2 separate regions of the Homo sapiens genome follow, and region 2 is linked to region 1. The links come from fine-mapping of genetic effects on gene expression. A gene starts in region 1. The other region holds a variant in brackets. All regions are shown on one strand. Distances are from middle to middle.

Region 1 (5,509 bases):
ATTTGAGACTCTGGATATGCACTAGCTAGGGGAGAACACATTTTTCATCTGAATATTGATAAAAATCTACATAATTACTATTGCAAAAAAAAAAAAAGGGGGAGACCCAGAATTGGGGACATGCCATTTAATATTATGGCCATTTACAAAAACAAAGATAGATGTGAATGCAACTTGTAATAAGTCAAGGTATAGGAAAAAACACAAGATAGTTTTCCAGACTCACCAGAAGCCTCCCATTCCCGTGGAACTTGAAAAGATTCACAGGAGGCTGCATACTGTTGCATCTATACAGACAACTGTTAAGATCTGTCGCCACAACCACAGTTCAGAGGAGGAATCTTCAGCTGTAAGAGGTTAAATGTCATATCCATAGGCGAAACAATACTGAAAAGAGAATCTAACTCCTAATTCCCACAGCATCCTTTACTGTAGCCTTTCCTTGGCTACCACCATAGCAATATATCTCAGCTTTTAGTCCATCCATTGCTGGTACCAGAAAACACAGATGTGAACAAAAGCACATGTTAAATTGCGAGCATTTGGATTTGTTCTGGTTTGACTCTCCAACATGGGTTCTTAGATCAGTAGTTCTCATTCTGAGTCAGATAATAATTTTTAAAAAGCTTCATCTCTGAGTAAGCCAATTTTGAAATTTGACTGATTTTAGCTACCAACCACACAGCTGGGAAGAACTTAAAATATTGAAGCCACAATGCTACTCACTATCTAATGATTTTGTGCAGATAACTCAACTTTTCTCAAATTCAATGTCCTTTTCTTTAGAATGGGGATGATCACACAAACCTATTGAGGTTGATTTCTATGATTTGACAGTAGTGTTATTTTTCATGTGGCTTATTGCAATAGCCTCATCTCCTTTTCTCATCTTCTGGCGTCCACTCTTAACCACTGTTCATCTATCAGTAACAAAACAACTGTAGCGATCCCGTTAAAGTATTAATTCTATCACTCTTCTGCCCTCCACTCTTAACCACTGTTCATCTATCAGTAACAAAACAACTGTAGCGATCCCGTTAAAGTATTAATTCTATCACTCTTCTGCCCAATGTCCCTGCCTTCATGCCTTCTCATCTCATTCAGAGTAGATGCCAAAGTTCATTTGCTTACATTGTCTGCCACCTCTTCATTGCCTCTCTGACCTGACCTGCCACCACTTTCACCCTGGATCATTTTGCTCCGGCCACTCCAGACCCCTCATTATTCTTTAAACCTTCCAGAAACACTCGGGGCCTTGGCATGTAGTTTCCCCTGCTTGGGAATTCTTGCCTAGAGTATTCACATGAATCACTCCCTTACCTCCCTTTACATCTTTATTCAAAAGCTGTCTTCTCCGAGAGGTCTTCCCTGGCTTTCTCACCTAAAATTACAACCCAACCTCTTCCTAATACTTCCTCTACACTGCTTTCTTTTTCCACTTAGCACAAACTAACATACCCTACATTTATTTACTTATTTGTATATTTTATTGTCTCTTTCACACTAGAATATAAGCTCTATGTTAGCATTTTGTTCACTTATTGACTATGTGATGTTGTGGAAAGGAGAAAACTCAACTTTTCTAGAGTTTATTCATCTGTTTCCAGGATGGTCCTACAACAATGATTGACACATACTAGGAGCTTAATAATTGGTTGTTGAATTTAAGTGAACTTTGAAAATGATGACCCTTGACACATGAAAAAGGTGGACAAGAAGGAGAAAGGGAAAAGGAAAAAGAAGATTTGGGGAAAGGAGAGAGAACAATTTTGTCAGATATGCTCAGACCACCATGATATGGACAAAGAAAACCAAGCAGCAAAAGGAAAACAGGAAGGACACCAGTGAATTATAATGGGAAAGCCCGGAAAGAAACAAAAGGAAGCCCAAGAAGGGAGAGCCATTCTTCATTGTTCACTCAGTATTCACCAGGTTTAAGTAGAGTTTTATCACGACCTGGTGCAGTATTATCCTCAGAAACTTGGGAAGGTCTTCTGTGTAAGAGCAGTTCAGTTATTCCCTCAAGGCAGTCATGAACTTGTGAAAAACCTAATGCATATAGAGTGATTCTAGGATGCTATTAATGATCAGATCAAACTATTCTCCATCATCATGTTTTTCTTGAGAACCTGATCTGAACATAAGTGTAATGCCAAGGACTAAAAGTACAAGGACTAAGCATGGTCATAACCTAGAAAGTTATACATTATATTCTTCAAAACACACACTCGAGTACAGACAAATATACCTCCTTACTACACAATTAGTAGATACCCAATCTTCCTGCAATGCAAGGACCTCAGACTTCTACACTTTTATTATTCAGATCTCAATCAGTGGAATCCTGTGGATCAAGGGGGAATTTCCAGCACACTAGAGGCAGCTTTTCTCCATTCATGGGATGTTCTCTCAGGCTTCAGGAGGGTTTCTTTCCCTCCTCATTCAGCCCACTACTATGATTTTCACTTTTTTTCTCATGGGAGACTTTTCTTCTCTAGCAACCCAGTCTTGCAAAAACGATGCCGAATGTCTGGTAAATTTGTTCTGAGATACCTTTAAAGATCTGGGCTGGGGAAAACAGCATTCACTTTGCAAGCTTCTTGGGATTTTTACTTAACTAGAGTCTCTTCTTCCCAGGATTTAAAACATGATGGAAACTTTAGCTCATGAATCAAAACAACCCTCCAGAGCTAAAAGCCAGCTGTATTTGCATAACAATTTAGCAGATCCAAACAGCAGGGCAAGGTCGGGTGAAATAAGTTGCCAAGGTCATGGTCATGAAGTAGTATTAGACTCAGAAAGGCTGATCCCCAGTGCTTGCTCCACCCCATGGATCTCTCCTACCCTCCTTCTAAACGATACTGTGGGATAAAATAAAATTAATCTACTGTATATGTGCAAACCACAGGCCTGCCCTTAACTCTTTCCTTACCTTCTAGTTTCAGATTATTCAAATCATGGAGGAAAAGATTAGATCACAACACGTTGACTTCACTGTATTACCATACAAATGAAATAACTTAGTACAAACTGTGATCTGGGGACTCTTGATCTAAACTGGGAACTGCTGTTGACTGCATTTTAAACTCTAAAAGTATTTTGAAACTCTTTAATTTCTTGAACTGAAAAAATTGCTTTGAATTCACTTTGTTTTAATTCTGAGAACCTAAAAACAGGGATTCTTTAAAAAAAAAATGCAAAGGCTCACATGCCAGAAAGAAAGAAGCTGAGGAGATAAAAATGTGTAAATAATTCTTACTTTAATACCCTTAGCTAGAAAAACCTTAAAAGCGACACATCCAGAAGCTCGTTAAGTCACAGCCTCTTTGAACCTATTTCAGTGAACCACCGAATTTCAGATCCCTCAGGTGCGACTCTGAATTCAGAATTCTCACCGGCTCATAGTCCTATTTTCCTTCTTAGGTTTTAGGGAATTTTGCAAACTATGACGCCCAGCCTTTGAGGGGAGAGGACTTTCCAGGGGCGCGGGATGTGCCACTCGGGAATCTCACCAACAGTGGGCGTTTAGCGCAGCCAAGCGACAGGCAGGCGCCAGGGCTCAGCAACAGGGAGGCGCCGGCTGAGGCGGGGAGAACTTTGGCGCTCGGAGCAGAGCCACCCTTTGCTGGCCAGTCGCGTTGCTCCTCCGAGGAAGCAAGCGGCGGTGGCGACTCGGTGGAAAAATAACGAAAGAAAGGCAGAGAGGAAGTAGCGAGAGAAGAGAGAAAATGAAGTCGGCGCTGGGGGAGCCTGCAGGAGGGTGGCCAACAGTGGAGGAAGGTGGATTTGGCTTCTTTTCCGCACCCCGGGCGTGAAAGCCCTCTCCAACGCGACCCCAGGAAATAAGTGGGTCTCGCCTGGGCAGAAAAGGAAAAGAATCCAGGCGAGAGCGCGTCGCTCCTCTGTCACTGCTGCCCCCGAGGAACTCCGGCTGCTTCTCATCCCGGCCGCCTCGCGGGGCCGGACGCAGTGCCCGAGGCGCCCTGCAGATGGGGCGGGCAGGGAACGGGCGCTCCAGCTGCGGGTGACAGGCGCCGGCCCGCCCGCCTGCCTGCTCAGCGCAGTGACCGGGCGGGCAGAGGATGCCAGGCGGAGGGACCTGGGAGCGGGATCTGAGACTGCCGGAGGCGCGCTACGCTCCAACTTGCATGGCCTAGAGACCGCTCCAGCTCCTGGGACCGCTTCACCGAGTGGAGTGAAGCTGCGCGCGGGACCTGGAGGCGGAGACCTCAGGCAGCGGCTGCAGAGGGGCGAGCCGGGCGCAGGAGGGGGCGCGCTTTCTCCCTGCGGGTCTCAGTAATGAGGAGACTGAGTTTGTGGTGGCTGCTGAGCAGGGTCTGTCTGCTGTTGCCGCCGCCCTGCGCACTGGTGCTGGCCGGGGTGCCCAGCTCCTCCTCGCACCCGCAGCCCTGCCAGATCCTCAAGCGCATCGGGCACGCGGTGAGGGTGGGCGCGGTGCACTTGCAGCCCTGGACCACCGCCCCCCGCGCGGCCAGCCGCGCTCCGGACGACAGCCGAGCAGGAGCCCAGAGGGATGAGCCGGAGCCAGGGACTAGGCGGTCCCCGGCGCCCTCGCCGGGCGCACGCTGGTTGGGGAGCACCCTGCATGGCCGGGGGCCGCCGGGCTCCCGTAAGCCCGGGGAGGGCGCCAGGGCGGAGGCCCTGTGGCCACGGGACGCCCTCCTATTTGCCGTGGACAACCTGAACCGCGTGGAAGGGCTGCTACCCTACAACCTGTCTTTGGAAGTAGTGATGGCCATCGAGGCAGGCCTGGGCGATCTGCCACTTTTGCCCTTCTCCTCCCCTAGTTCGCCATGGAGCAGTGACCCTTTCTCCTTCCTGCAAAGTGTGTGCCATACCGTGGTGGTGCAAGGGGTGTCGGCGCTGCTCGCCTTCCCCCAGAGCCAGGGCGAAATGATGGAGCTCGACTTGGTCAGCTTAGTCCTGCACATTCCAGTGATCAGCATCGTGCGCCACGAGTTTCCACGGGAGAGTCAGGTGAGAGGAGCCTGGTGCGTGGAGTGGAGATGGGCGCTGCTGGGGGCCGGGGCCATTGCATGAGGGGAGAGAAAACGGCTTGGTAAAGTCTGAGGGGAGTTGTTACTTTATAACTTTGATATTGCTTAACGATTGGGCCATGTTCGTAGGTGGTAGGTAGAAGGAGCTTAGTAGAAGTAGAATAAAATATTTAAAGCGCGGATGGAAATAAAACGCGCAGTGAGGTCGCGGCTGGAAGGAAAGAAGTGGGGAGAATATGAGAGAAAATCATATTTTGACCGGCTGGGAGAAATCTAGTAGATGCCCGACGGGAAGTAGAAGTCGAGGTTCAGGACCGTGGAGAGCGGTGAAGGTTCTGAAGAACTACAAGAGCAGGGTATGGGGGTGGGGTATCCCTGACTCCTGGCTAGGTGTCACACTCCCAAGAGCAACTCTGACAGCATGTGTCGGAAAAGCAGCATCTGCTCTCTCTGACTTCTTCAGAAGGTGTGCCTGAGCCTTAGGCAAAGGT
Region 2 (5,000 bases), 150 kb after region 1:
TACAAGCTAATTGTTCAATAAATCTACTCAAGATAGTTACCTAAGGCTTTGTGGCAATGACCTTGAACTGAGAGCCTGTATCTGGATTTAGCACTTGAAAGATCTAACTGGATATTTGGGTTAAAAGAATCACATTTATTCCCAAATCGGAATGCTTTGTTTTTCCTGTCAGTTAATTGCCAGTTGCCAACAAATCTAGTTCTATACAGTTTCTTGGGATGATGATAATAAACATTTATTGAGCAATTGTCCCATAACTTTTGATATAACCTTTGTTATACATATCATTTAATCATCATAACAACACTGTGAGTCTGGTGCCATTATTTCAGCATTACAGATGATGCCATGTAGAGATCTAGCATCTTCTCCAAAGTCGCCCAGCTGGTAAGTGGCAAAGCATGGATTTGAACCAGGCTTTCTGACCCCAAATCCTGAGCTTTATTTCTACCTCTCTGCATTTATCTTATTTTTATAGCTCCTATATCTACCTGTTACAAATTATTTATTATAGTCTTAACCATGTCATCAAATCAAGCCTCAGTTTTCATAAATGATGAAACTGAAGCCCAAAGAGGTAAATTGCTTGTCAAAGAACAAGCAGCCTCCACCTCTTTGGTTCTATGCATTGCAATGAAACAGATATGTTAGACGAGACAGTTTTAAGCCATGTTCCACCTTTGGCTCATCTTGAGAAACAGGTGACAATATTTAGATTAAACCGATAACGCAAACCAATATGCTCTGAGGCTATAGAGATCAGTCACAATATGTTGTTATGAATCCTATGTTAATTGGATTATGTCTGCTCTGTACCATATGTTGCAATCCCCAGACCACTAGACACTCTTTTTGAAACAGAGAAAAAAATATGGCCTCAGCAAATTCAATTTAGCTTTGGTGTATATTCTCTCATGCTTTAGAAACATTCTCAAGGAAAAAATATCTTCCAGACATTTTTGTTAATTACAAATTCCTAAGCCACTGTCTGAGGAACAGTATGAATTTTTTAAATGAAGACAATTTTTTATTTAAAAAAAGTATAAATTCCATTCTCTACTTATAGTACTGACTCTTTCTTTCTGTTAAGAGATAGAGTAGGTAGTTAGTCTGCTATGGTGTTATATCTATTTTGAATACTTTGAACAGGAGGAGGCTCGGATGTTTTTAAAAAGAGTGTTGGCCGGGCGCGGTGGCTCATGCCTGTAATCCCCGCACTTTGGGAGGCCGAGGCGGGCAGATCACGAGGTCAGGAGATCGAGACCATCCTGGCCAACATGGTGAAACCCCATCTCTACTAAAAATACAAAAATTAGCTGGGCGTGGTGGCACGTGCCTGTAATCCCAGCTACTCGGAAGGCTGAGGCAGGAGAATTGCTTGAACCAGGGAGACAGAGGTTGCAGTGAGCTGAGATCACACCACTGCACTCCAGCCTGGGTGACAGAGCGAGATTCCATCTCAAAAAAATAAATAAATAAATAAATAAATAAATAAATAAATAAATAAATAAATAGAGTGTCATTATGGTAGAGGAACAAGGCCACCAGACTGAGAATCAGACCGGACTTCTCTGCTGCCGTGTCAACTACCGTACCTACCCCAGTAGCCAATGACTGTGAACTATAAATCATGAATCATCAGGAATTAGCTGATTCATAATGAAAAATTCTAACACTGAAGGGTCACCGTAGTAGCAGTAAAGCTGTGTAGATCAGAAGACAGTCTGACTACTCACAGGCTAACTCTGACCTACAAATGTTTGCTTTCGTTGTTACTGGTTTTACATGGTGTTTGTTCTCACAATGTTTTTTAAAAATTACCAATATTTTAAATAAAACCTTTAAAGATTTTAAATAAAAACCTAAATTACTACAAAGAAATGCAGGTCACTCTAATATGGAGGTAGCTTTTTATTGACTAAGGAGTCTCTGAAATATTGAGATGAAATTAAGAGTTTCAGTGAAGAAAAATTAACATAGTTACACTCTTTGGCACAGAAGTTCAAAATGGACTGAAGGGTTCACTATTTTTTAAAGATATAACACTGGACACAAAATATTTATCCCCATAATCAATATGTTCTAATGCCTGAAACAGTAGAAAAATGTACAATAATCAAAATAAGTATAGCTGTGTAAAACTTCAAACTTTTATATAATAAAATATAACAAAACAAAGAAAACATAAAAAGGGAGAAACATAACATGTTAGCAAAAGGGTTAGCAGTTTTTCAAAAAAAAGCTTCATTGTGTCTGATATGCATAAATAAATATGCAAAAAAGTCATTATATGATTCATTCAAAAGGAGATAGGTAAAACAAACATGGAAAAATAGGCTTGCTAATTCAATAAATACAAATTACAATATTTAAAACAGGAAAAATGAATAATTATAAAACAGTTGGCAAAAATAGAAGCCTTCTAGGCATTGCAGTATCTTTGGTGGCATTGGGAATGGCTTTCACCCTTTTTATGGGTCATTTTACACATCACAAGTCATCAGAACAGTTGTATCCTTTGACCAGGTAATCTCACTCATTGCAATGTATATCTCAAAGAAATAAAAATATTTTAAAATGCTATACATGGCCAGG[T/C]GCAGAGGCTCACGTCTTTAATCCCAGCACTTTGGGAGGCCGAGGCAGGTGGATCGCTTGAGGTCAGGAGTTCAAGACCAGCCTGGTCAACATGCTGAAACCCCATCTCTATTAAAAAAATACAAAAATCAGCCAGGCGTGGTGGCACATGCCTTTAGTCCCAGCTACTTGGGAGGCAGAAACAGGAGAATCATTTGAACCAGAAAGGCGGAGGTTGCAGTGAGTTGAGATCGCTCCACTACATTCTGCCCTGGGAGTCACAGTGAAACGCCATCTCAAAAAAAGAAAAAAAAATACTATACACAAAATTTTTATTGTAGCAATATTTGTCGTATATACCATAAATTATAATATTTAAAAAATTAAACAACCACAGTTTGGGAGTAGTCAAGTCAATTATAACAAAAACAATAGGTGATAGTATTAGGCAACTAAAGTTAATAAATAAAATAATATTTAGAAAATAATATTTTTAGAAATATTAAAATAGTTTGTTAGAAAATAAGTTCTTTTAAAAGCATAATGCAAACTTGTTATATCCTATGTTTAGAACTCTGAAGAATATGTGTGCATATGGTCATTGTTCAGAAGAGAAAATGGAGCATTGAAAGTAATTGTTTTATAGTACAAGGATTATGGGTAATCTCACATTTAGTTTTTAAAAATATTTTTCTGAGTCGTTTTAATAATAAATTTTTCAAAAAACTGCACAACAGAGCTAATGTGGCAAATTAAGTACAATTTCAACCCTAAAAGATGGTCGCCCAAGCTTAAAAGAAATGGGGGCTCAAGAATCCCAAGAAACAGGGAGAGAGAAGCATCTTCACAGCAACATGGGCAGTGCCATGTTGATGAGCCACTAAGCAGTTTCCAGGTTAGAGGAATGCAGAGAGTGCTGTCAAAATCCTTGTTTATCCAAATGTGTGAGCACTACTCAGGCTCATGCAGTGTCTCCCTGGATTTTGTGTTAATAAATTATCTCCTCTTCTGTTTCTTTTGTTAAGTGTGATCTTTCACTATGTCTTGGTTAATGAGAAACTTCCAGGTTCTCTGAATGAATCTTTTTTCTCCCTCTTCATGATTCTTGTTAAATATATATGTTTTAATTCCAAATGATTGCACCGCACAATCTTACCTAACTCTCTTCAACCAGACTCTCTCACCTGGGAAACTCTGTCTTTGGTACATCTGGAGCCCACATTTCATGTGGATATCATTCTCCTACTTCTCCCCAACAAGGGGCCATATGTATAGACACAGCAATGAATCTGCCAAGTTCTTTTGAGCAACTAACTATTCTTCTGGGCAAAATAATCAGGAGGCAATAAATAAATAAATAAATAAATAAAATAGATACCAGGTCTTCAAAATTAGAAATAGCATTTGCTTCTTCCTTGTCCTGCTTCCAAGCATCTATGAGTCATCCATATTTCAGAAGCACCACAGCCTTTTTCTTTTCCTTACCTCTCATTAAAATCATTATTTCTCCCCCTGCCACCAGCTCTCTTATTAAGGAAAAAAATTCTTGAACATCGCATTTGGCTGTGCAGATCCAGAGAGGAGATGATACAAAGCTTAGTGCATTAGGTCACTGAAAAATACAATTATTTTCCCAGGTTCTTGCAGTCATTTTGCTCTGGGGAAAAATATTTAATAGGGAATGTCAGAGTAAATGTAATTAAGTTACTTTTCAGACATGTGCTTTTTATTTTTTATTGAACTTACTATATACTAGGCTGCTGGAGACAGGCAAAAGCAACACAGCCTTACCCTGTCAGAGAAGACTTCCTAAAACAGGCTCCACCCGTTCATTTCTGAGATCTGCGTCAGGATACAGTCTATCTCAAAAGAAGTTATATTCACACCTCGGAGCTAGAGGACCTTAATCCTTTAAACAGTACATATATTGAATCAGATTATTTGGTTGCAAGCAACAGATTTTTTTTTTTTTTTTTTGAGATGGAGTCTCGCTCTGTTGCCCAGGCTGGATTGCAGTGGTGCAATTTCAGCTCACTGCAGCCTCTGCCTCCCGGATTCAAGCAATTCTCCTGCCTCAGCCTCCCGAGTAGCTGGAACTACAGGCACCTGCCACCATGCCTGACTAATTTTTGTATTTTTAGTAGAGACAGGGTTTCACCATGTTGATCAGGCTGGTCTCGAACTCCTGACCTCAGATGATCCACTTGTCTCGGCCTCCCAAAGTGTTAGGATTACAGGCGTGAGCCACTGCGCCCGGCTGCAACAGATTTTTAAACTTAAGCAAAACCTATCAAAAGAATAACGGGAAAGCTCAATGTTTTGAAGTAAGAAAGAGAGTGACAGATGAAGCCTCGAACCACAGCACTCCAAGGATGCTAGTGCAGGAACTAGGGGACTATGTCTTTGGGGCACTGACATTGGAAATG

Evidence for each region. PIP is the estimated chance that this variant, and not a neighbour inherited with it, causes the effect.
Region 2: its variant is the best candidate, but not a certain one, in a credible set for the expression of GRIN3A in whole blood (TOPMed, PIP 0.51).

What each region holds. Positions count from the first base shown.
Region 1 is chr9:101,736,770-101,742,278 of GRCh38, reverse strand. It overlaps GRIN3A (glutamate ionotropic receptor NMDA type subunit 3A), which reads left to right and starts at 3,632. Exons shown (of 9, transcript NM_133445.3): 1 at 3,632-4,998. The coding sequence starts at 4,300. RefSeq lists enhancers at 3,275-3,798, 3,799-4,323 and a silencer at 5,218-5,509.
Region 2 is chr9:101,586,861-101,591,860 of GRCh38, reverse strand. The region is part of intron 6 of GRIN3A (glutamate ionotropic receptor NMDA type subunit 3A); the gene reads left to right. It overlaps PPP3R2 (protein phosphatase 3 regulatory subunit B, beta), which reads left to right. Exons shown (of 1, transcript NM_147180.4): 1 at 1-257. Among named protein-coding and RNA genes, the nearest start is that of PPP3R2, 5.6 kb to the left of the region's middle. The variant T/C (reference allele first, on the strand shown) is at 2,596.